Regions from separate parts of the Homo sapiens genome. Here all the other regions are linked to region 3. The links come from fine-mapping of genetic effects on plasma protein levels. A gene starts in region 3. Each other region holds a variant in brackets. All regions are shown on one strand. Distances are between the middles of the regions. Region 1 overlaps PTPRB (protein tyrosine phosphatase receptor type B). Region 2 overlaps PTPRB (protein tyrosine phosphatase receptor type B). Region 3 holds the start of PTPRB (protein tyrosine phosphatase receptor type B). Region 4 overlaps PTPRB (protein tyrosine phosphatase receptor type B). Region 5 overlaps PTPRB (protein tyrosine phosphatase receptor type B).

Evidence for each region. PIP is the posterior inclusion probability: the model's chance that the variant is causal. Protein levels are from antibody-based Olink assays in UK Biobank. Linkage for the fine-mapping came from a reference panel and not from the study's own genotypes, which makes the PIPs less certain.
Region 1: its variant is fine-mapped to the plasma level of the PTPRB protein (UK Biobank, PIP above 0.99).
Region 2: its variant is fine-mapped to the plasma level of the PTPRB protein (UK Biobank, PIP above 0.99).
Region 4: its variant is fine-mapped to the plasma level of the PTPRB protein (UK Biobank, PIP above 0.99). The variant lies in the coding sequence of PTPRB. If it changes the protein, the assay may bind it differently, which can mimic a change of level.
Region 5: its variant is fine-mapped to the plasma level of the PTPRB protein (UK Biobank, PIP above 0.99). The variant lies in the coding sequence of PTPRB. If it changes the protein, the assay may bind it differently, which can mimic a change of level.

What each region holds. Positions count from the first base shown.
Region 1 is chr12:70,603,949-70,609,054 of GRCh38, forward strand. The region is part of intron 4 of PTPRB (protein tyrosine phosphatase receptor type B); the gene reads right to left. Among named protein-coding and RNA genes, the nearest start is that of PTPRB, 31 kb to the right of the region's middle. The variant G/A (reference allele first, on the strand shown) is at 2,611.
Region 2 is chr12:70,587,983-70,593,088 of GRCh38, forward strand. It overlaps PTPRB (protein tyrosine phosphatase receptor type B), which reads right to left. Exons shown (of 34, transcript NM_001109754.4): 7 at 4,300-4,563; 8 at 1,982-2,251. Among named protein-coding and RNA genes, the nearest start is that of PTPRB, 47 kb to the right of the region's middle. The variant AT/A (reference allele first, on the strand shown) is at 3,119.
Region 3 is chr12:70,635,456-70,640,561 of GRCh38, forward strand. PTPRB (protein tyrosine phosphatase receptor type B) reads right to left here and starts at 1,974. Exons shown (of 34, transcript NM_001109754.4): 1 at 1,886-1,974; 2 at 216-611. The coding sequence starts at 1,940. PTPRR (protein tyrosine phosphatase receptor type R) reads right to left here. Exons shown (of 14, transcript NM_002849.4): 14 at 2,624-3,822. The coding sequence ends at 3,729.
Region 4 is chr12:70,529,063-70,534,168 of GRCh38, forward strand. It overlaps PTPRB (protein tyrosine phosphatase receptor type B), which reads right to left. Exons shown (of 34, transcript NM_001109754.4): 32 at 2,973-3,108. The region is part of intron 6 of PTPRB-AS1 (PTPRB antisense RNA 1); the gene reads left to right. Among named protein-coding and RNA genes, the nearest start is that of PTPRB-AS1, 64 kb to the left of the region's middle. The variant C/G (reference allele first, on the strand shown) is at 3,022.
Region 5 is chr12:70,594,087-70,599,192 of GRCh38, forward strand. It overlaps PTPRB (protein tyrosine phosphatase receptor type B), which reads right to left. Exons shown (of 34, transcript NM_001109754.4): 5 at 1,963-2,241; 6 at 381-638. Among named protein-coding and RNA genes, the nearest start is that of PTPRB, 41 kb to the right of the region's middle. The variant T/C (reference allele first, on the strand shown) is at 2,188.

The DNA of each region.
Region 1 (5,106 bases), 32 kb before region 3:
ATGTATTTCATACTGTTACCAATTAAACATAATATGTGGTAGTCTTTTATATGCTATAAAAGCACAAAACAGGCTGGCCACAGAGGCTCAAAACCAGCCTGAGCAACATAGGGAGACCCCATCTCTACAAATAATTTAAAAAACTAGCTGGGTGTGGTATTGGGTACCTGTAGTCCCAGCCACTCAGGAGGCTGAGGCAGGAGAATTGCCTGAGCCTGGGAGGTCAAGGCTGCAGTGAGCTGTGATTGTGCCACTGCACTCCAGCCTGGGTAACAGAGCAAGATCCTGTCTGAAAAAAATTAAAAAAATAAAATAAAATTTTAAAGAAGCACAAAACAAATACTAGAGTACTCTTCTCTTCCTGGGAAAGATAATAAATACTCCTAGGCATTATAGATTTGATCATGCATTAAGAAGAATTGTATCAAAATCTTAATGCCAACAAATAATAGAAAAATTATGTCAATAGTTCTTAAACTTGTGTGCATCGATTCACTCTGATATTTGTTTAAAATGCAGATTCCCTCAGCTCTATTCCTTCTAAATTCTAATTCTTTCCATGTGGGGTAGAAACCAAGAATATGTTTTCATAACCAGCTCTGCAAGATATTTCGATGCAGGTAACCTACAGATATTAAGAAATGATGGCTTATGTTTAAAACTATAGAAGTATTAGGGGATGAATTGTGTCCCCACCAAATTTATATGTTGAAACCCTAAACCCCAGTACCTCAGTATGTGGAGATACGGCCTTTAAAGAGGTGATTAAGTTAAAATGGGGCCATTAGAGCGGGCCCTAAGCCAATATGACTGGTGTTCTTATGAGAAGACATTAACAGACAGACAACAGAAACAGAGGTACCACTATATGAGGACATGCAAAAAGGTGCCATTTGCAGGCCAAGGAGAGGCCTCAGAAGAAACTAAACCTGCAGACACCTTCGCCTTGGACTTCTAGCCTCCAGGATTGTGAGAAAATAAATTTCTGTTGTTTAAGCCACCTAGAGTCAGGGGTATTTTGTTAAGACACTCCTAGTAAACCAATACAATAAGAAGTGGAAATAATAGCTGATATGGTGATTCAACAATTAACGTTCCTAAAATGTTTTTTATTAAAGACAAGTTAGCCATATTAAAATAATTAAAATCATTTGAGAGGTTTTGTTTTTTATTTTTCTAGGCTGACTAATAAGTAGCTGAAACTGACTTAACAAGAGGGAAAATGCTTTTAAAATATTATTTCTACAGGTAAAGTTATCTACCACTACAACTCTTCCCTGGGCTCTGTAATCTACCCATAATCCAATGAGAATAGAATATATTTTTAGTATATGTACATTCTCTCACTAAAATATTAATTTCATTCATTCACATCTACATGCTTATCTGTATCTATATATTGGTCTATCTATCTCTTCTACTCATCATCCGTGCCCAGATCCACCATTCATCCATCTTTCCATTCATCCATCTATCCATCCATTTAATCAGTATTTACGGAACACCTACCATGTATTAGATGCCATTTAAGTACTGAAAACCTACTTCTTATTGCCAGACAAATAAATGCTCCCTAAAATTTTCAAATGAAAACCACAAAGTAGAAGTCACAAATTCAAATGTCTTTAGAATGCATTCAGGTAAGGAAATGAATGAAGTGGTATTCCAGTGAGTTGGTATCTAAAAGGAGAAGACACAAGTCAGCTCTAGAGAGTTTTAGGCACAGTTTTGCCAAATCTTCCAAAATTTTAAGAGAATCCATACATTTGGGTTTTAATGTGAATTTTTGATTTTTAATGCTGGTGAAATGATCTGGATGTTTTCACAAACACTACATGAGCCAAACACAACATAGTTATTATTTAGACACCTAGCTATCTCTAGAGGCTACCAGTTTGCAACCTCTGCTCTAGACTCTGAGTACAGTCTTCAAAAGTGCCAAGTTTAAGAAGAGCTCTACAAGAAGTGAAAAAAAAATGCCAACTTATTCCATATCTGGTATGTTCATTGTCTGATTTCTGGTGAGTTCACACTAAATACTTTGGCTTTCAAAGGATATTCTTGTTGCGTTGACCGTTTAATGACCAAGTAAACCTGAGAATTGCCAAATATCTTGTCCTCTATGGTTATGAAAGCATGGCATACATGAGGCAGAGTAAAGTCCTCATCCAGAAAAGATGAGATAAAGCTCTGTTGCCACTTTCATCATAACCGTCTCTCACCTCTGCACGAGACAACAAGGTCAGGAACCACTTTTTGTTAGTCATCTTTATAAGCTTACTAATCACTACCTGGCATAGTTCCCAACAGTATTATGTTTGATACATGTGCACTGAACTGGGTTTAAATCCATTATGTTCTTCGATTCTGATTTTAAATCTGGAATGGAAAATGACTATTGCTGAAATATTGCCCATTTAATTCAATTTTTTTATCCTTAAGGTCGTGTCTATATGACATGAAAATAATGAGCTATTTTAGACAGTTTATCAGGAAAAATAATCAGGCCAGTCACATTTGGAATGATATAGAGATCATCTAAGCAACAACTATATTTCTATCCAAATCATGTCTTGCTCTCATTCTATTTTGTTTTAGACTGATAAGACA[G/A]GCATAATAGAATAAAGAAAGCACAGATATTTTCAATTACTTTTTTGTTTGAAGTTTGTCTGAGTTTGAATATTATACTAGTTGGCATTGCTTTAATAACAGTAAAATATGATTTATGCATCTCATCTCTATAGCTCAGCAATTAACATAGGGGAATACTAGTACTTTGTATTAACTAAGTGAACAATTCACATATGTCCTTAAAATGTAGAAAGAACTACTGACAAATAAATAACAACCGACTAAAAAATTCCTCCCTGAAACAATTTTTAAAATATCTTATTTAAAAAAGTAATTTAAATCTAAACAACCATCATACAAATACATGTGGGAAATTTATCATTATGCAAATACCACCTGCAACTTTCATGCTTCACATTTATCATGCAGCTCATAATATTTGTAGACAAGTAAAGTGTGTCTCTTTAAGAAAAATGGTGAGAACCCTGAATGCTAGCACATTGTGGATGCTGATGAAGTCTTGTTTCACTCAACATGGTCAATAAAATGCAAGTATTTCTTACATTTCAGAAATGCCTCTGGACTTGAATACCTACTTGCATAATTAAACTCAAAGCCTATTCTAACTAATTACACCCACAGTAAGTCCTTTTCCATTACTGTTTTTCCAAAAAGTAAATCCTCTGGTTTAAACAACCATATTCTGGCTTCTTAAAGGTCTTAATCTTTTCTCCAACAAACTTCTGAAAGCTCAGCCTGCTTTTACAAATTGCTCTGCTCCACTGAACACATACACTAGTTGGCCAGATGCCTTTCTAAACACAATTAACACATCTGTAAGTTCTATGTTATGTATTTCACAGTATTAGCAATATGAGTATTTATAAGAACTATCCTGTAATATTAAGAAACCAACAACATTTGGACTAAAAACCCAGCCTTTCAACTTTTGTAAAATGTTCTAATTATGTGGTCTATTTCAGGCTCTCTGATTCCATATTAGAAACCACCAGATTCATTTTCCTTTTCTTTTTTTTTTTTTTTTTGAGACAGAGTCTCCTCTGTTGCCCAGGCTGGAGTGCAGTGGCACAATCTGGCTTCTCTGCCTCCTGGGCTCAAGCAATTCTCTGCCTCAGCCTCCCAAGTAGCTGGGATTACAGGCGCCCGCCACCACACCAGGCGAATTTTTTATTTATTTATTTGTTTTATTTTTAGTAGAGACGAGGTTTTGCCATGTTGACCAAGGTGGTCTTGAACTCCTGACCTCATGATCCACCTGCCTCAGCCTCCCAAAGTGCTGCGATTACAGGTGTGAGCCACTGCGCCCAGTCAGAGAAACCACCAGATTCTTAACAAGCGATTTCTCTTTTCAACTTAAGATGCTGCAAATCTCAGATATCATCTAAAAGTTTCATCTGAAGTAAGTTAAGTGATGTAATTGGGCATTTTGATTTTTTTCTTTGAAAAAAAAAGATAATATCTAGTTGACTTACTACATGAGCCCAGTTAAATTCTCTGAAACTGCTGCACCTGCCTTTAGAGCTGAAAGTTCTCACACCTCTTTGAAGAACTGTAGCAAAAGAAATGATCCTGTTTCAGGTTGAAATGTGAAAGAATACTAAGGGCAACACATTTCTAAATTTGACTTTTAAAATTTTAACATAAATTTGAATCTCTGGATGAAGGTAAGGATACACTGTTGCAACAAATAGAGATAATGAAGACTAATGAAGTCAGAAAACCTGAAAATTGTTAAAGAATTTAGAGCATGTCTGAGGGTAGCTCTGAGGATTAAATGAGGTAATGTACATGACAGCCCATACCTAAGTGTTGAGCACTTGGTAAGAACTTGGACTTGAATGACCTAAGTCTAACACTCCCATTTTACAGATAAGAAAACTGAGGCAAGAAAGGCAAACTCTGAACATATCCACATGGAGGGATTCAGCAAAAGTGTAAGGAAAATAATTGCTGTAAAGTAATCAAAGGACGTTCTCTGATACTATGCTGTTTGGGTTATTACTCAAGAGATACAAAACAATTTTCATGTCCTCATTTCAAGAGACTTTTCTAATTTTCCCTGATGAATGGCTCCATTCTATTCCTGCAGATTTTATGTACAGTTCTAAAAATAAAACTAAGTTGAGGAAAGGCATACCCCTAATATTGTACTTCTATTATTTATTCTAAAAACGTTTACTTAAAATTATTCCAGGGTTTGACAATTTAATGCAATGGAAGCGTAAACCACATCACTTTAAAAAATTCCCACCGCAGCCCAAAGTTTCTCTTTGCTGACCGCCCTGCACCCCACCCCGACCCTTTCAGTAGCTAGTTGGCTGTTTTCAGCACTAAGGGAGTCTCTGAAAGTCCACCAAGCTGCTTCTGGCTAGATCCGAGGAAACCAGACATTTCTGTCAATATTTATCTTCACAGGTATTTTTACCTTCATTTTTTGTATCCCTGGAACTCAAATGAAACACCAGCTTGAAAAGGCAGGGCCCAACCCCGTGTGGCTTGGCCATCCAATTGCAC
Region 2 (5,106 bases), 47 kb before region 3:
CTCAGCGGGAGGCTGAGGCATGAGAATTGCTTAAGTGGGGGAGGTGGAGGTTGCAGTGAGCTGAGATGGTGCCACTGCACTCCAGCCTAGGCAACAGAGCAAGACTCTGTCTCAAAAAAAAAAAAAAAAAAGAAAAGAAAAGAAAAGAAAAGAATAAAGTGTTGCTGCCTTAAATTATGAAAGAATCAAGTATTAAAAATTTTCTTGTAAATTTTGCATCCATAAATTTTCTATAAATCCATTCTAATTGAGTCCCTAACTCTCCATCTTCCTTCTTCGGTATAGAGAAATAATTTGATTATTTACATCGAGGCCTACTTCAAGTTACCTGAATAAGGTGAACCAGAGACACAGTTTAAGAAAAGTTTGGGCCGGGTGCAGTGCCTCATGCCAGTAATCCCAGCACTTTGGGAGGTTGAGGCGGGTGGATCACCTGAGGTCAAGAGTTTGAGAGCAGCCTGGCCAATATGGTGAAACCCCATCTCTACTAAAAATGCAAAATTAGCCAGGTGTGGTGGCACATGCCTGTGATCCTAGCTACTTGGGAGGCTGAGGCAGGAGAATCGTTTGAACCTGGGAGGCAGAGGTTGCAGCGAGCCAAGATCATGCCATTGCACTCCAGCCTGGGCAACAAGAGTGAAACTCTATCTCAAAAATAAAAAAGAAAGAAAAAGAAAAACAAAAGTTTGGCCTGGCGCCGTGGCTTGTGCCTGTGATCCTAGCACTTTGGGAGGCCAAGGTAGGCGGACTGCTTGAGGCCAGGAGTTTGAGACCAGCCTGGCCAACATGGTAAAATCCTGTCTCTACTAAAAGAACAAAAATTAGCTGAGCCTGGTGGCACACGCCTGTAATCCCAGATACTTGGGAGGCTGAGGCACAAGAATTGCTTGAACCTAGGAGGTGGGGGTTGCAGCGAGCCGAGATTGTACCACTGCACTCCAGCCTAGGCCTGGGAGACAGAGCAAGACTCTGTCTCAAAATGTAAAAATAATAAATAAATAAATAAAAGTTCTCCTGAGAATTATGCTGACATGCTGAGAGCCCCTAATGTTCTGTGATCTTCCATTTCCAAGTTATTTGAGGTGAGTGATAAAATATTGGAGATGACAGAGATGCTTGTCCTGTGAAATACTAAAAGTCGCTTAGTTTAAGCTCTGTAGGTCTTTGATCATCATCCAGTGGATATTAATATTTGGAAGATGAGGAGATTACTGCAAGACACATTGGCAAGCTAAGTGGGTGTCATGATCCTTTTCTTTGACATTGTTCTAAGAAGAACAGTGAATCCATGTAGTTATTTCCCTATTATCAGGCGAACTAAGAAAGAAGGTATTTGAATTTCACTCTAAATATGGAGTATTTCACATTACAAGGATTATCAAGCAAATGTTGAACTTGGAAGTGCAACTCTCTTATTTGACAATATGAGTACAAGTATTTGACAGTATGAGGATACTGAAACATGAGTCTTGGTATTCTTGCTGTCACGATTATATTGCAAAGCTTTGGGCAAGTTATAACCTCTTTGAGCCTGTTTTCTCATTTCAGTATCCTTATTCTTCCCTTCCCTAAAATCCAAATATATCCCTCTCCACTTTAATCACTCTTCATTGGTACCTGAAATCCCCACATTAGTCAACATGAGGTCAAGGCAATGGTTCCCTAATGCTGATCACTAGCAAAAGGTTCTTCTTTTGTGGGAAGGGTCAGTGTTTGTTTTCAGAATGTATGCATCTTACTCTTTTGGTGTTTGAAATGGCTTTCTTTCATGAAATAATGGAGTTACTAGTGGAAGTGATTTTAAATGTTCTAATTTGACAAATTAGGTGTTAGAAACCCCATGTTAGCCTTAAAGTCCTTAATATCTCAAATTCAGAAAACACCAGGGTATGATATTAGCAGTTACGGCAGTTACCTGGGTTACCTGGGAGAGGGAACAAATTACTCTTCCATTGGTATTAACATCTTCATATTTGCCTACCTGTCCTGCCTTGGCAACGCTCAGAATTCTTCAAATTTCCACTCTCAACAATGACTTCCACCTCATACTGTCTTCCCGGTACGAGCCCCGTGTCATCCATGACATACTGTGTTTCTTCCTTTCCCACAGTGATGTTGAGCAGCACCACAGAATCATTGAAGAGTAGGATCCGATACTGCTCCCAGTCTCCAGCAGGGGGCGACCAGCTCACTACAAGAGACCTCATCCTGCCATTATTGTTTGCCTCCAGGTTTGCAACTTTGTCTGGAACTAAACGGTGAAATGATGTCAAAAAGGAGATATTACAGACCAAAAGTAAGGATACTCATTTACTTTTCTTGGGCAGCAGTAGATAGGAGACACAATATCTGCAGTTCAAAACATTTCTATCCCCTCTTGATGTCTGTGGATTGCAAATGAGTGTTCTTTATTTCGGAGACATTTGACACACAAGAAATGTCCGCTAAAATCATTTTAGTGATATCAGTAATGTAATCTTCTGTTGTAGTGTTAATAATCTAGTGATATGTGGCATCCTTTGTAAGAGATATTGGATGTCGTGATCATGAGGCATTCCTTTCTTTCTTTTCCAACTAAAAAGATTAATGTTCTTGCAAGATTAAGTTCTTTTTTTTTTTTTTTTTTTTGCTTAAAAACATTCAAGGTCTCTCTATAATCTGCAGAATAAAATGTCAAGCCCTCTGCTTACATTTTTGGCTCTTTAAGTTCAGACCCCATATCCTTCCAGTCTTAACTGAGACTACTTTCTGAAGCCATCCTCTCTCCTTCCCTACCCTTTGGAAAGCTGGCTTCCGGTTGTATGTTCTGTAGACCTGCAAGTCTCCTGGGCCCTTCTGCCTCTGGGCCTTTGCTTATTTTGTCCCCTCCACCCCAAAAGCTCTTCCCTCTTTTCCCTCTTTGTCACAAACGTTACATTTTTTAGGTCCTTATTAAAGATCATTTCTATTTCCTCCAAGTTTTTTTTTTTTTTTTTTTTTGAGACAGGGTCACACTCTATTGCTAGGCTGGAGTGAAGTGATGCAATCATGGCTCAACCACAGGGCTCAAGCAATCCTCCCAGCTCAGCCTCCTGAGTAGCTAGGACCACAGGCACATGTCACCATGCCCAGCTAATTA[AT/A]TTTTTTTTTTTTTTTGTAGAGACGAGGTCTCATTATGTTGCTGAGGTTGGTCTCAAACTCCTGGGCTCAAGCAACCCTCCACCTCAGCCTCCTAAAGTGCTGGGATTATAGCCATGAGCCACCGCACCCTGCTCCCATTTCCTCCAAGTTTTTACTGCTCTTATGAAAGAAAATTTTATCTTTCCTTTTTGACCATATATCTCTTACTTCAGATCTCTAATAGCAGAGAGAATGGACTCTGGAATCAAATAGCCTGGTTTAAATTCTAGCTCTACCACTTACTGGCTGGATGACTATGGACAAATTATTTGACCTCTTTGAATTATCTGTATAATGGTAATAAATAACAAGACATCTCTCACAGTTTTGTTGTGAGAACTAAATGAAATAATGGATATAAATTATTTAGTCAGTGCCTGATACATGCAAATATCAATACAGTCACTATTATTAAAATGTACTATTTTTATTTTTGTACATGTGTGTATTCCACATCTGTGTGATTAAAATGAAAGTTTTCTAAAGCAGGAGTTGGACAATTTTTTCTGTAAGGATCAGGTAGTAAATATTTCAGGTTTTGCAGGACACATATGGTCTCTGTCTCATCTTTTTCTTGTTTGTTTCCTTATTTGTTTGTACAACCCTTTAAACATGTAAAAACCACTCTTAGCTTGAGGGCTAAACAAAATCAGGCCACAGACCAGATTTGGCACCAGATGGGGTAGTCTGCTGGATCCTGCCTTAAAGGCAAGTAGCATGTCTTAGTCGTTTTAACAATAGTACAGTAATTTACATATATAAGGCACTGGATAGATAAGTGAGGACATAAATTAATAAAATAATGTATGGAAAACATGGTTAAATGCTAACTGGTTCTCACTGTAAGAATGAATCAGAAATGTTTTATATACTGGTATCAATGCTAATGCATTTATGCTACTTAAGTGACGTGACATGAAAAAGCATAAGACAGAAACAACATGCAGATCATTCAGAAATCCAAACTCAGTTGCCTAAGTGACTCAGAAGAATGGGCCATACTACAGACACCTTCAGTTACATAGGCTCCACTTCTCAGATTGGGAAAGGAGTTTTCCTGCTGACTTATTTTGTCCTATTTTAAGGTGGATCAGAGAGTGATTTGAGCAACCAAGGAACATTCTGGAGCCCAAGACTCACATGTTCTGCCCACTGCCATCTTCTGAGCAGACAGTTCACCAGAGACACAGCTGACAGTAACTTGATAAAGTCGACCGGGGACTAACTCTTTAAAGTGAGTTTCAGTAATCCAAGGTGCTAATACTCTGGATTCCTTGATGGTCCCTTTGTGAGACAGGGTGATATTGTAAGAATCCACATTTCCAGGAGGTCTTTGCCATTTGACTTTTAGAGAGGTCAAACTGCCATCATTTGTCACCTTCAGATTTGAGACTTCCATGGGGGCTAATCAGGAAAGAACAGAAAGGAGACTTTTACTCAGGATCTCTCACAAGTCCTATGGCCAAATTTTGACCTGTAATTTTATTTCTGCAAGCCACATTCCTTGCTCTGGAGAAAACAAGCACTTCAAGAGGCAAATATTATCCTCTTCAGATGGTGAAAAAATAAAAATAAAAAAAGGTTTTAAAGAGGCAAAAAGTAATGTTGTAAAACCAAAGGTAGGCTATATGCCTAGTGGCAAGGCCAAAACCTTGGCAGGCAGAAGCCTGGATTCTGGTTCAGACTGGGCCATTAGTCAGCTGGGAAACTCTGGACAGCTCTTTCTAGTTCACTGAGCCTTATGGTGTTTCTTATTGGCAAATGAGGCTAGGTCAAAGACCTACAATGGTCCTTTCCAGTTCAGAAATTCTTTAAGTGGAATGCACAAAAAGGTCTGCCATCTGCCTCATTTCTTATCGCCTTTATATATTAATATTCAATAATATTGAGTACATAGTAAATAGATCGATCAATTGATTGATTACAAAATTTTATGTGATAAAACTA
Region 3 (5,106 bases):
GAAAAAGTTGGGCTTATTTTAATGAGGGTCATGAAGTTTTCCATCATTGGGCACGTCACCATCCACCTCCATTAGCTTATGAATCTTCCATAGGAAATATGTTGGGGCATGTGGACTTCCCTTAAATGTAAAACAAACAAACAAACAAACAAACAAAACCCCCAAGATATTTAGTAGAAAGACTTTCAGGATTTGCTCTGAAAGGAATAGCTCACCTTTTTGTAAACAGAGGCTTTCATTGACCAGTTTTCCCTCCTTGTTGACATCTATTTTCATCCAGCTATGGAGGTATTTCCTGGCCTTCTTGACCACTACTCTGGAGCCTTGTTTCTGGAGAAAGAGAGAGGCATTTTCCACCTCAAGGAAGCCTTCCTGATCATAGCAGGTCCATCGGGGTGCCTGGGAACAGCGGTCCAAGATGGCTGAGCGGGAGGGGCCGCGGGAAGAGTTGGAGATGGCCAAGCACAGTGCAGATTTAACATGAAGGAGCTTTTCATCCTCAGTCCACATCCACTGCTGGTTCTGGATGGTCCTGTTGCATGAGCCCACGACCACTTTCTCATTTTTGAAAAGACACTGTTGTTTCTGGACATGGACAATCTGAAACCCTTCTGGAAGATGAAAAGCTCATAAAGCACTATGTAGCAAATTATGAGGCCCATTAGAAAACGGAAGAACCCACCCACAAATGAGCTAAATAAAATCACTAGTTTTACTTATATTTTGTTATTTCTATCATTTCAAGTGAACATTCTCATATTTAACACATGTGATTTAAAATTCCAAAGCTGACGATATAAAATGTCAATATGTTACACTTAACTCCCCATCTTTTTTTTTTTTTTAATTTTCACATGCTTTAGGGGAAAAAAGCACACCTCTTATTGGAAAATGAAAGGAAGCTTGGAAAGAAACAAAACCATCCAAAGTATATAGTATATTTTAGCCCAATTAGTTAGATATGCTGAAGTTATGAAATGCTCAGCTCCCTTTTTAACCATTTGACATATTCGATATAAGCTTCCTCCCTTACCTTAAAAAAGCACCCCCTTTTCCAGTCTTTAAATTCACATTGCAGTATTTATATACAAATTTCATAGTTTGAATAACAATTTTTTAAAATTGCATACATTTATCAAAAAATAAAACAAATTTTCCCACTTCTCCAAGCACAACCTCCTAGCTAATTGCAGCCAATGAAAGTATTGATTATCACAAACTAAATTTCCTTTAGTCGTGGAGAGGAGCATTTCTCTATTTTATGACAATATCTACAGTTTTCTCTCAAATACGAATAGATTTTCTAAAAATCATCATGTGCCAGTGTAAGAAAATTAAACATCAAATTGCTAAACATCAGTATTAAAGAGCAAGATACTCTGGCTCAGAAACCATTTTCAATGAGGTTTTACTTAAATTGCCCAGCTCGCTCATGAAAATGTTCAGCCCTCCCAAATGACAACTTCCAAATAAAACACACTACATTTCCTCACCCCCTTTAATCATATTCCTTCAATTTTCTTTCTTCAACACAAAAGAAAATAAAACTATAACCGGGTCGGAAAAAGGCTTGGGGAAAGCCACAGACTGTTATATAATAATACAAACTTTTCCTCGGGGTTCTTTACGCTCTGCTCTAAATGTATCATTTCAGGGGCTGCCTGAAGCATTTGGAGGATGAGAGGAGAGCATTTATTTTCTTTTGGAGAGAAATCTCAACAGTATGGGCATAGCTGGCTCCTTTTATTCCTGCTTTTCATCGTCTTTGGCTAAACTGCCATGGAGACCTGGCCCCTTCTACCTTATTTCAGACACTTCAAAGACCAGGGACTCCTTGGCTAGATCTTGAAGAAATGCCTCAGGACACTGAGGCAGACCCACTCACCTGAGTTCCTGAAGATCAAGCAGGTAAGAATCACCATGTAAAATTCAGCCTCCATTTTCCACTTAGCAACTGTTCATGCTTCGCTTGGGGAAAAAAAAAATTCTCCCAGATAAGAGAAGCAAAGACTAGGAAGGAAATGTGCCTTCATGGTGGGGGGAAAAGTCAGTGACGAGCACTTCCTCCTATTGAATTGTTTGGGGAAGTTTTACACCAGTGTCCTTTTGTCTGTTTCCTTAGAAAGAAGGGATTATGATTACCTCTTTTTTTTAATGTAGAAAATATTCCAGCCTTCAAGAGCAGAGTAAATCTCGTTAAGACCTCACCTACCTTTCCTTTGGCATGTGACTGCTTCTTAACCTCAAGAAGAAAGAAAGGAATTGAAATCTCAGATAATTGAATGTTCCTGAAACATTACATCTCTTCAGGTGATGTGATTCTGCTGAATAAACATAAGCCATGTAATTGATGAGGGTCTATGACAAGTGATATAAAGACATAAACATGTACTGTTTGTATAATGATATGCTGCGAGTCTATTGAGGAAAACCACATAATGATGGCACTTCTAGATCATTATCTCCCAAGTGATGACAATATTACATTTTGAGATCGTCATCTTCACTGGGGAGATGCAGACACTAAAATTAAACCCATCACATTATCTACTTTGGTCTTCCCCAAACAGAGGATGGCGTCTTTCCAAATAGAAAAAAAAAAAAGAATATGCTTTACTCAGTATTTAGTATTAAGAGTTTATTGGCAGTATGAAACAAAGTCAACATTGCTGCATTAAAAATTCATATATGAGCAGAACAGCTAGTGTTTGCTGAGGGTAGTTATTTTAATTTTTTTTGTCTCTTGAAGATTGAAAGCTTTCAGAAATGTAAGGACATACATGGAAATGTCCTTATAAGGAGCCTCGAAAATGGGACAGATTATATCATTCCTGAAGGCATATACCTTTTGTTGAGAGAGAGATTCCAGGTAGATAGCATATTCAAAAATCCCTTCTTAGCAAAAGAGAGACAAGTAGTTAAAACTCTTGATACTTCAGAGTTGCTACAAATTTGTTTTTCCCTTTTAAAGTAAAATGACTCACGATGTGGAAATACAGTGGATAGAGTTCTGGAGCAGAAGCCACCTTTATGCCCAATAATAGAGAGTAAATACATATATACCCAATGACAATCATTGTGCTCTGTAATTGTTTGATAGGAGGGACTATAAATACACATTTAATAGGTAATATTATCAAGACACATTTCCATATAAAATAGTTACTGTTTTTGATTTTTGTTTTTCAAAAACAAAGACTTCTCTGTTAAAAATCCATTATCAATCACTTGCAACTTTAGCAGCAAGATTCTGGTAACTGAGAAAGGTAATAGCACTTCAAAACAGGAACAGTTTAACAGCTGACAGTCCATTCACAAGACAGATTTTGCAAACATTAAAGCATCTAACACATAATACGAATGTCTTCAGCAGCTCATCCAGTCATCACCTGATGACATTTATTACTGAATATTACATACATACATTCTGTGTGGCAGATAGAGTCAGTACAGACAAAACAAAATCTGCCTTAGGCTGTGTGATAAACCTATCATACCTCCATCATCAAAAAACCTTCAGAATAATTTGGGGGATGCTTACAAATGCATTCATATACACAAGGAGCTGGAAATCTTAAATATGTTGCCCAGTCTTCCACAATCCATGCCATACATGGGCTTCAGAGCTTCTCCTTCCTTCCATTGCAGGAAGCTCCTTCTAGAAGCCTTGGGTGGGTAATTTGATTAATCACCCCAAGAGATTGATGGTCTGACAAGTCTTCAATGACTCACTGGACAGTCTCTGCTGAAAGTCTGCTCTCATACAGGCACAGAGCATGGTGCACAAATTCATACTGCTCACTGGTTTGCACCATTCCACCTCTGCAAGGAAGAAATCATAAAATAACTGATTTTGCTAAAATCTTGCAATTTCAAGTAACACAGAGATTTCATCCAAGCTAGGGTATTATGCCAAAGACACATAGAACAGTCGACCTAGTGGTTCTTTTGTTATCCCTCTTACCTGTGTCCAAATGTCTCAACTATCAAAGTTAACATGGTAATGTATATAAAGGGCTTAACACAGTTCCCAGCACACACTAGGCACGTGATTAATTTTTACCTGTGTAACATTACTGGGGAGGTGGTACAGCCTAATGATCAAGTACTTGGATTTGGCATCAGCCAAGGTGAGTTCAAATCCCTCCTCTGCCAATTCTTAGCTGTATGCATCTTGGACAAATTCCTCGAAACCCCTTGCACTTTAGTTTCTTCCTCTGTTAAAGCAGGATAGTAACAGTAACTACTGCTGTGAAGGTTAAATAAATTCATTGTAGCTGGTATATTTGTATTACTTCTCAGGTGCCTCATGATTCATCTCTTGTTAAAATGGTTTATACATTTGGCTTAAAATTGATTGACGGAGACAAACCAAACAAAACTCATCTGCAAAATGTTGCTTTCTACAAGTAAAATGAAGTCTACCTTGGAATGGTTTATTTGAATATGTTGTACAGAAGCAACCTTAGCCTTTTGGTGTACGGGGTGTCTAAACACAATAGTGGGTGGGTCCTTAAATGAGTTGGAAAAAGGGAATTGGCTCTGCTGTGACATTTTCCTCTTGGTTATCACCATTATCATCACTAGCTGCCCAGCACCCTCCTTGTCAATGGATTCATAGAAAGCACTTGCCTTCATGAGAAATAACGGTGCTTCTCATTATGTTTTTATATACATAATACCTATATCACATTTTCCCCCTTCATAATTATGATCCTTTTTTAATTTTAGTTTTTGAGAAAACGTCTCCTTAATTGCTTAGGCTGTTGTGCAGTGGCATGATCACAGCTCAGTGCAGCCTCAACTTCCTGGGATCAAGCAATTCTCCCACCTCAGCCTCTGGTGTAGCTGGGACCACAGGCACCACCACACCTGGACAATTTTTAAATTTTTTTTTTCTTGTAGAGACAAGGCCTCACTATGTTGCCCAGGCTGGTCTCCTGGACTCAAGTGATCCTCTTGTCTTGGGCTCCCAAAGTGATGGAATCACAGGCTTGAACGACGGTGTCCAGTCCTATAATTATGATTTTTTAGCTTGACAAAGTTACCAGACATTAATATGTTACTATTCCTGCTCACTGTATAAAAGCATCACTATCGGTAACT
Region 4 (5,106 bases), 110 kb before region 3:
AAAGAATGAAGACTGAGAGAAAGGGTGGTGCCTTGAGGACAAAACCTTGGGGAACTCAAACATTAAGAAGGCAAGCTGAGGAACTATGCCACAGTGTCCTCAGTGAGGCAGGAGGAAAAGGAGAACAGAACAGGGAAAAGATGGAGTTATTTCTAAGGAGAAGGAGGAAGAGGAACATTGTGTTACCTCTGCTCTGAAAGTCAGCCAGTGATATTGACAGTAGAGTCCCTCCTAGTTGCCAAAATGCATTATGAGTTTGGGGCAGGTGTATGGAGGTGATACATGGCCCAAGAATCCTTTGACAATTACTAGAGCACACAAATACACACAGTTTGAGACTATTTACAATACGATAACCTCCTCTTTCCCAAGTTACAAATTAATTAGGGTTTGAGTTTGTGAAAGTGACAATAAACTAACAAAATATTAATGCTGACTTTTTAGCAACATAATTGTAGGATATTTGTTCATTCATTTAAAAGATTAAAAAATATTGAGGATATAGAAGAGGAGGAAAACAGGCTCCCACCCTCTAGGAATGCATAGTCTTGTGGAGAAAGCTGAAGGATAATAATTAATAAGAAGGATAATAATTAATAATTATGATACAGGGTTATATAATTCTGCAACCTTTGATGAAATAACAGCGCTAGGCAGAGGTCATCAGTGGCTGCTAAAACCATTAAGTGAAGGGTTGATGGGGATAATGAAGGGTTCAGGCTGACACTGCCTGAACTCACTGTCAGTTTCCTCAGCGCTGAAAGAGAGACAGACATGGTGATCTGCCTTCTGATGTCATGCAACAGAAAGCCCTCAGCACCACCCATGAAGCATTGAGTTTAATCAGGCCTCTAGATCTAACCACCAGCTGACAAAATCCATGGGGAGTAGAGGAAAAATCCATGGGGAGTAGAGGAATATATTACCACCATGAAAAAGCAATCAGCCACATCTAGAATGTGGGAAAATCTGCCGAAGAAATCAGCTGGCTTCTTTAACAAATAAATATCATGGAAAACAAATGGGAGGGAGGATTATAGATTATAGAAAGATTTCAGAGACACTTCAACCAAATGAAATATGTAAACTCTGGATTCTAATGAAAACCAAATATAGTTTTTTATAAAAAGTAATTTTTTGAGATAATTAGGGATATTTAAATACTGACTGGATATTAGGTGAGATTTAGGAATAACGGTTAAGAAAGACATAGATGTGATAATGACATTGTGGTCATAGTTTTAAAGAGTATCTCAAATATACATATATATGTATACATGTTCACATGTACACACTTATATACCCGTACATATGTATATATGCAATATATGTAATATCACATATGCATACAAATGTACACATATAGGTGTATACATATACACATGCACATATACACATGTACACATATATGCAATATGACATGTATTACACACATACATATATACATACACACGTGTACACATACATATGTGTATATAAGTATATGTGTATTTAAGGATGAGATAATATGATAAGTGGGATTTGCTTTAAAATATTTCAGTGGGATAAGGTCATGGGGTAGGGGAACATTAAATGTGGGATACAGATGGGAAAAGAACACAGAATACTGATAATTGTAGAAGCAGGGGTTTGGGTACATGGAAACTCACTATACTATTTTTCCTAGTTTTGTGTATTTTCTTTTTAAAAATTTTTTGTGGAGATGGGCTCTTGCTATGTGGCCTAGGCTGGTGTCAAACTCCTGGCCTCAAGTGATCTGCCCCTCTCCAGGCCTCCCAAAGCACCAGGATTACAGGCATGAGCCACTGTACCCAGCCATGTTTTGTATATTTTTTCAAAACAATTTCATAATAAAACATTCAAAATATGGTAGAATCATTGTTATAATGAAAGTACTCCCAGCCCAGGACAATAGTGGTGGCAGAGGTTCCTGCCTGCAGGAGGCAATGATGCCATTGTTTTGTCAAATGTGAGTTCTGCAGAATATTTTTAATTTTTATTTTCATTTCTCTGGTTCAATTGTTACTGGCTTGAATGCAGGATATTAATATGTGCTGCACAAGAAAAGAATTCAGGGGTCAAGGTGGTTTTGGGATTAGTGGGTTCAATAAAGCTCAAAGGGGGCCTTGGCTGCAGGAAGCTCTCTTTTTATGGAGCATTGCTGTCTGTGCATTGTCCTTGGGTACTGTGGCTCTAAGAGGGGACACAGAAGCATGTAGAACTTTTTACTTTTCCAACCATGGATTTTTTTTTTTAATACAGAGGATTTTGCTTAGTTACTTGGAGAAAAACTTGTGAAACACGAGGGTAAGAGAATTTGAGCCTTAGAAGGCATTGATGCAGAGGAGTGAATGCTTGGTCTCTATTGAGGAAGAGATCTGACCCTGAGGCTAGTACGCTTATAGCACAATCAAGGGCCCAGGTTTCTCTAGAATAGTGGCCAAGCCACCTCAGCCACTTCATGGCTGTGGGCTTTGTGCAAAGCCCTTAAGCTTTTGGACCTTCATTTTCTAGTCTGGAAGTAGAATATAATATGTCTCGCTTGGTTATTGTGAAAATTTAATGAGATAACATGTTCAAAAATGCCCTGCAAATGTCAAAGTGCTGCACAAATGGAAGCACGTGGTCTTTACCATCTACATACACTCCCTTGGGGTCTCCTGAAATGGGGGTGTAGGTGGAGGGAGTGGGGCTGGGGGAGAGAAGAGATTGGGATCTTCTTCTTTCCTAAGTGAAGTTCTTATGCTCATCTGCCAGCCTATCTTAAAATGATCCCCAAGATGGTCACCTTCAAGACCAGTGAGATTTGTTTTAAAATAACAAGTCTTAGAAAATATCTACATGCAGTTCTTTTTTTCTCTTCCTAATGTGTCATAGTTATTTCCCCTTGTCAGATTAAGGTCCTGGATATTTTTTTGTGGGAATACAGTGGGGAGGAGGGTGGCCTGTAACTTTCAGTCTATAACTCTTACCTCAGTCTGGACCATGTGAACCCTGTGAAGTCTTAGGTCGTGCACTGCT[C/G]CATAAATGTCCACAGAGTCTTTGGAGTCTAACTGCTGGAGGATTCGGTCCAATGCAATAAAGGTTCCAGTCCTACCCACACCAGCACTAGAAGAGATGGCAAAGGAAGATTGAGCCTTTTTATTAAATTTGCCTTTCAAGATTGCATCTAGAGACTCTGGCACAATCTTTTTTTTCCCTTCCCAGTTATGGGAGAAGATAGGAATATTTCTTTCTCTCAAATAAGTTTAACCTAGAGTCCCCCAACCCCACCCCCCCACAGCCTTCTATCTCTTTCCACTCCCTTCCTGTCCCTCCTCCACTCTACCAGGGATAAGTACTGCTCTGCACTTACTGTGTATCATTTCCACGCATGTTTTTAATACTTTTCCTACATACAGGTAAATCTATAAACATTTATGTTTGAAAAATCTACTGAAATGGTAACATATGTGCTTTAGGTATCTTTTTGTCAACTTTCCTACTCAATATTATGTTTTCAGATTTATCTATATTGCTACATATAGATCTTCTCGTTTCTTCTTTCCTTCCTTCTTTCTTTCTCTCTCCTTCCTTCCTCCCTCCCTCTTTCCGTCCTTCACAGGGTCTTGCTCTGTTGCCCAGGCTGGAGTGCAGTGGCACAAGCATAGCTCACTGCAGCCTCGACCTCCCAGGTTCAAGCAGTCCTCTCACCTCAGCCTCCTGAGTAGCTGGGACCACAGGCATGTGTAACTACTCCCAGCTAATTAAAAAAAAAGACTTGTAGAGATAAGGTCTCCCTAATAGTTGCCCAGCTTGGTCTTGAACTCCTGGCCTCAAGTGATCCTTCCACTTTGGCCTCCAAAGTGCTGGGATTAGAGGCAGGATATACCACACCCAGCTGATCTAATTTCTTTTAATTAATTCTCTTCATAAACCACTGCTAATCCAGTGGCAGTGAGATCATTTTAAATTTTTCTCTATTAAAACATGTGTTGCAAAGAACATGAATATATGTGGAGATTTCTCAGGGGTCAACACCTAGAAGCAGAACTCTTGGGTTGGTCATGGGCATGAACACCTTCAGCTGCACTAGGGATTGCCAAATTCCTCCCCAAAATGGTTGTGTCATCTGGGGATTTTTGATACACACATTTATAAGATAACAGTTCTCCAGTGGTCCTGGACAAAAATGCCTGCCATTTTTCAAAAAGCAGAAAGCTCTGAGGTGAGTGCCTCACCTTCCTATTAAAAGTGTCAAGGTTCCAAGGACATAGGAAAGCAGGGCTCCTAGGGTGCTGGGCTGACAGGGAGGAGATGAGTACACTTGGCATTTCTCTTACTGCTGCAGTTCCCTGCTCCATATTTATTAGTGCCATTCAGTTAGGGCTATCAAAATGTTGCTGCAAACATTAATTTGCTAGATACCAGGCTCGCCAGAGAGAGAGAGATTTCACTTGTTAGGTTGATTTTCTGGACAGACTGAAGCAAAGAGAAATCAAGAGAACAAATTTAAGAGAAAAAATTAGGTGCTACAGGTGGCAATTGCTGTGCTGTGGTTTGAATGTTTGTGTCCCCTCCAAAAATTCATGTTGAAACTTAATCTTCAATGCAACAGTATTAAGAGGTGGAGGAGGTGATTAGGTCATGAGGGCTCTGCCCTCATGAACGGGACTGGTGCCTTGTGAAACAGTTGGAGGGAACTAGCTAGGTTCTTTTGCCCTTCCATCCCTCCCTCTATGTGAGGACACAGCCTTTGTCTGCTCTGGAGGACACAGTAACAAGGCACCATCTTGGAAGCAGAGACTAAGCTCTCAACAGACACTGAAGCTGCCAGTGCCTTGATTTTGGACTTCCAGCCTCTAGACTATGACAGATAAATTTCTATTATTTATTATCCAGTCTGTGGTATTTTGTTTTAGCAGCACAAATAGACAAAGACATGCTACTAGACCTGGAGGGAAGATTAGAAAATAAATCTTGAAGGATAGGTAGGACTTAGGTGGAGAAGAGAGATAAAGCCATTCCAAAATGGAAGAATGGCCAGAGGCAAGAATAAGCTTGTGTGCTCACTTTCCTGGCTAGAATGTGAAGGGAGTTATTGGGAACTTAGATTGAAGGTGATAT
Region 5 (5,106 bases), 41 kb before region 3:
ACAGGAGTAGGGTATGTATAGCATGGAGAAAGTAACTCTGGTTCACTGTGAGTGATGTCATAAAGACAGCAGTTGCCTGTTTAAGAAAAGGAAGTAGGAATCCTTAGCAAGGAGATAGAGTATTAAAAAGAGAAGAAGAGAAGCTAGGTCCATATCAGTAATTAACTTTGCCTACTTCAAAATGTTGCCAAGGGCTAGCCTAAACTTTAGAATAAAAGAGAATCCTTCTTTTTCTGAGTAGAAAAGTGGATATGGGTCTTCTATACCTTATAAGAATTTCAATTTGTCCTATATTACAGTTATTCATATAATAAACTTGACTTATTAAACATTCCCTTGATTTCACTTTATTCTTCTTCAGCTAGCTAGGGGGAACTTACCTGTCCTGACTAGTTTCCACCTGTAGTTTTGCAGCCCTGCAGCCTCAGTCATAACAGTGAGGTTGTAGAGGTAGCCAGGGGTCAGCCCGTGAAAAGCATAGGAAGTAGCATGTTTGTCCACAACACCGCCATGAACTAGGATCCCTTTATCCATTAGCATCAGCCGGTATCGTTCCACATTCCCAGAACCATGGGACCAGGAAATCAGGAGAGAATTGGCTTTTGTGGAAATACCAATATCTTTCACTGGAGATGGCACTAGTGGGATAAAATGCATGTCCAAATGTCATTAATAATTCCCTTATAGGAGACATAGACACATTTAATTAGAAGTCACATATTCATTTGTGTTCCTCTGTACATCTTAACTTGATAATAGCATTAGTAAATAACAGGATTCTGGAAATTTCACTGGAACTTTGATTAGTGCTCTTTTCAAAGTCTGCAGCCTCAAGTTACATCATAATTTACTTGTCTGCCTCCCCCACTTAATAGGTATTAAGGTGGCTTTTGCCAGTGAAGTATATAACATTGCACAGCAGTAAGTAGAAGAGAGAAAGGAAAGAACTATAGAAGATGAAAAATGGAGAGGAAGATTTAAAAAAGAGAGGGAAAATGTGGCACATATACACCATGGAATACTAGGCAGCCATAAAAAAGGACGAGTTCATGTCCTTTGCAGGGACATGGATGAAGCTGGAAACCATCATTTTCAGCAAACTAACACAGGAACAGAAAACCAAACACTGCATGTTCTCACTCATAAGTGGGAGCTGAACAATGAGAACACATGGACACAGGGAGGGGAACATCACACACGGGGACCTGTTGGGGGGTGAGGGGGATAAGGAAGGGATAGCATTAGGAAAAATATCTAATGTAGATGATGGGTTGATGGGTGCAGCAAACCACCATGGCACGTGTATACCTATGTAACAAACCTGCATGTTCTGCACATGTATCCCAGAACTTAAAGTATAAATATCCCAGAACTTAAAGTATAATAAAAAAATTTAAGAAGAGAGAAAATGAGGGGAGAGCAAATGACATGAAAGACATGTACTTTATGGAAGGAGGTAGTGATGTGCCATGTATATCATAATATGTGGGTGCACAGATGCCTTATTTTTCACCACATTGGAGAAACAAAGACTTGTTTCAAACATAGGAATAGTTAGGAAACATTATGACTTGATGTTATGAGAAGAGTATACAAAGAATAAAAACATCTAAAAAATAAGTTTTATGGCACAAACTTAGAAAATGGGGCAGAAAGTCTTGTTGCTTTGGATTTGAGTTAGAAGGGCCATTAGGGAGTATCCATTCCAAGTTGGAGAAAACTCCAATTCCACAGAAGTCCCATGACTTCTTCAAAACCACTCAACAAGTTACCAGCATAGCCACGCATCCTATTTTCAGTCCAGTCTGTCCACTGTATCCCACAAGCTCCTTTTAAAAATTTAACTAATTGCTAATTAATTAACTTTGCTCTGGAGTAGCAATCTTACTCCTATTCCTTGAATAAAGTATAACTTGAAAAGTATCCTATTAACTACTCAGCTATAAAATAAACAGGTCTTACCTGTTGATCCATTGGTATAAACTGAAAAAGAACGTTTTCCTCCAGAAACAGCTGTGATGGCAATATTGTATTTACTACCAGCAGTGAGATTGAAAAAAGTGTATTCATTCCATGAAGTACTTTCTTGAATTTGAACCCCCTGTATCTTTTGGTTATTTTCATCAAATAATTGCACCTCATATGAGGTGACTTTTCCGGAAGAAGGAGTCCACCAAACATGCAAGC[T/C]GGTTGAAGTCGTCTTCTCTTTACTGACTCCAAACCTAGCAGGAGGTAAAGGATCTGCAAGGCAAATACACACACACACACAAAAAAAAAAAAGAAAGAAAAAGAAAAAAAAAGAACATGGCTTGAAGACTTTTGCAAATAACTGCTTATTTTACTGCAGTCCAGGTTCATTTTTCTCAAAAATCTGTTATTTGTGAAATAAATTGCCATTTTGCTTCACTTCCAAACCTACCCTTTCACTTTCTTAAAAAAAAAAAAACCCATTTAGCTACTAGTCATATGAATTCCTTTTTCTACTGAAACTTTTTTTGTTGTTGTTAAGGTAGCTCTGATCTTGAAAGTCCAAGCAAAGTTATATTTTCTTTGGCTTGCAGTTTAGCAACTTTTTCAAACATTGACAAACATCCAGGTTATGCCTGGATAAATACTGAAGATCTCAACAGAAAATCTAGATATTAAGAAATAATTTGAAATATACACTGAACTTCTTCCTAGGTTGTAGATTGTTGGTGTCTAGTATATGTAACTTTGGGTGGTTTTTAGATATTAGACAACCACAAAAGATACACATCTGATTATAAACCTAGGATAGGGTTGCTTACCAAAATGGATTCTCCCAGTAGCTGGGATTCCCTATATCCCTAGATTTTTTTTTTTTTTTAAGATGGAGTCTCGCTCTTGTCACACAGGCTGGAGTGCAGTGGCGTGATCTCGGCTCACTGCAACCTCCGCCTCCCGGGTTCAAGCAATTCTTCTGCCTCAGTTTCCCGAGTAGCTGGGATTACAGGCACACGCCACTGTGTCCGGTGAATTTTTTTTTGTATTTTTAGTAGAGACAGGGTTTCACCATGTTGGCCAGGCTGGTCTCAAACTCCTGACTTCAGGTGATCTGCCCGCCTCAGCTTCCCAAGGTGCTGGGATTACAGGCATGAGCCACCGCATCTGGCCCCCTATATCCCTAGGTTTTTAAAATCTCAATTTTGGGGCACTTTGGTGCTGCCAGAGCACCCAGAGTAAGTGGGAATGGGCAAATCTTGCACCCAGCTGTTCACCTTATTTCAACTCTCAAAGCCAAGGATCAGTTTGAGAAGTCCTGCTTTGCCTATGTTGAATCTCCACCATTGAACTTGAATAGAATAAAAAGCATATCAGGATTAGGAACTAAGTCAATGATATTTAGTGAGCAGCCATTCTTTTGGTACAGTGGGGAGTAAAGTCTAAGAAATAAGGGGCTGCCCCTACCCTGAGTGCTGAGAGTAGAACTATTGAGAGACCTCTTTATGAGAAATTTTCAGAAATCCAACATGGTTCTTGGTCTAGAAAGTGGGATCAAGATATTGGAGACCAATATTGAAGGGTCAGGTCAGATATTATAATGGCATGGCTATAGAAACTTCACTACTTCCTGGTAGACTATATTGTGTTCACAATATAACACCAGGAATTCTAGACCTTATTAGAAGATATAACCTTCTTATATGTTTTAAGATGATATTCACTTGTAATTTACATATAAAAGAAATAAGATAGCCTTACTCTATATTCAAAAGGCAGTTATAAACAGACAACTCATAAGACTATGTATGGCTGACCAATAGACACCATAGGCTTAATAGAGCCTATGAAATCTAATGTTTCTATGTTTTATGCTATGATTTATGCTAAGTACATCATATTGCAAAATTATATATGCCACATTTATAACATCAATAATTAATAATAACATAAATGTTAGCTGACAAGCAAGCTGAGGCAGCAGTAACTATGACAAAAATTAACAGAGTGCCCGAAACACAGGTGAGCTTGGAAGACAAGGTTGCATGGTTCACACCACAGCACAGCCCTTTGGTTCACCTGAAGAACATATGTTCTAGGGTTTGACAGCCCGGGCTTGAATTGGGCTCTCCTATTTGTAGCTGTGTGCTTTGGGCAATTCCTTAACCTCCCTGTGCCTCAGTTTCCTCATTTATGCAATCCTGATAATAATATCTTTTTAGTAGAATTGTTATGAAGATTACATTGAATATTATATAAAAAGTAGTTAGAACTGTATCTGGCACGTAGTAAGTACTCAGTGTTAGCTGTTATTATTTTTATTATTCCTATAATTAGGTGAAAATATTGCCACAGAAGCAGTGAAATGTAATGGCAGACAGCATGGGCTTTGGAGTCAGAATTAAATTTAAATCTCAGCTCTAACAAAGTCATGAGACTTTGGGCAAGCTATTTAACCTGTCTAAGCCTCCACTTTCCTATCTGGGGAGTATAATAATAATACTTATATTCCAAGGCAGTTTTGAAAAGTAACAAGATATAGAGGAGTCTATGAGATTCTAATAGCCAGTGAAACTCAAGAACAATGCTGTCGTACCCAATTGAGATGACATACTTTTGCTGAAGTGGCATTTTAAGGACAAGGATGAGAGGGACAGCTGCTTCCAGTGATAGTTCAAAAGGGATCAATACTATCATCTACATGTACTATCAAGCCAGATAAAAATTTTAAAAAATAATGTCATGATCAGTAGAATCCAAACATATATAATCCACAAAATATGAGATATAGAAATAAATTTTAAGGTTGCGTGTCTAGAGGGTGAAGTTCAGAAATGCAGACTTTATCTAATCTTTCTGAGCCAGAAAACAAAACAGTCAATCCTTTGTACATCCGCTAGAACAAAGGAACAATGAGACTGGGAAGTGCCTGGGCTGCGAGAACCTGCACTGGAAACAAACACTTAAAACCCCATTTATACTGTGATAAAGCCCTTTGCTGGCAGTTGTCCACTATTGCTATGCATGCTGCAGAAACTAAATAGTTTTCAGACTCCCTTTAAATCTAAGCCCAATAAAAACTCTGATGGATTTAAAAAGTTTTCAAAATTTTATTAGATACTTCTATCAGGGGTGCACATTTCA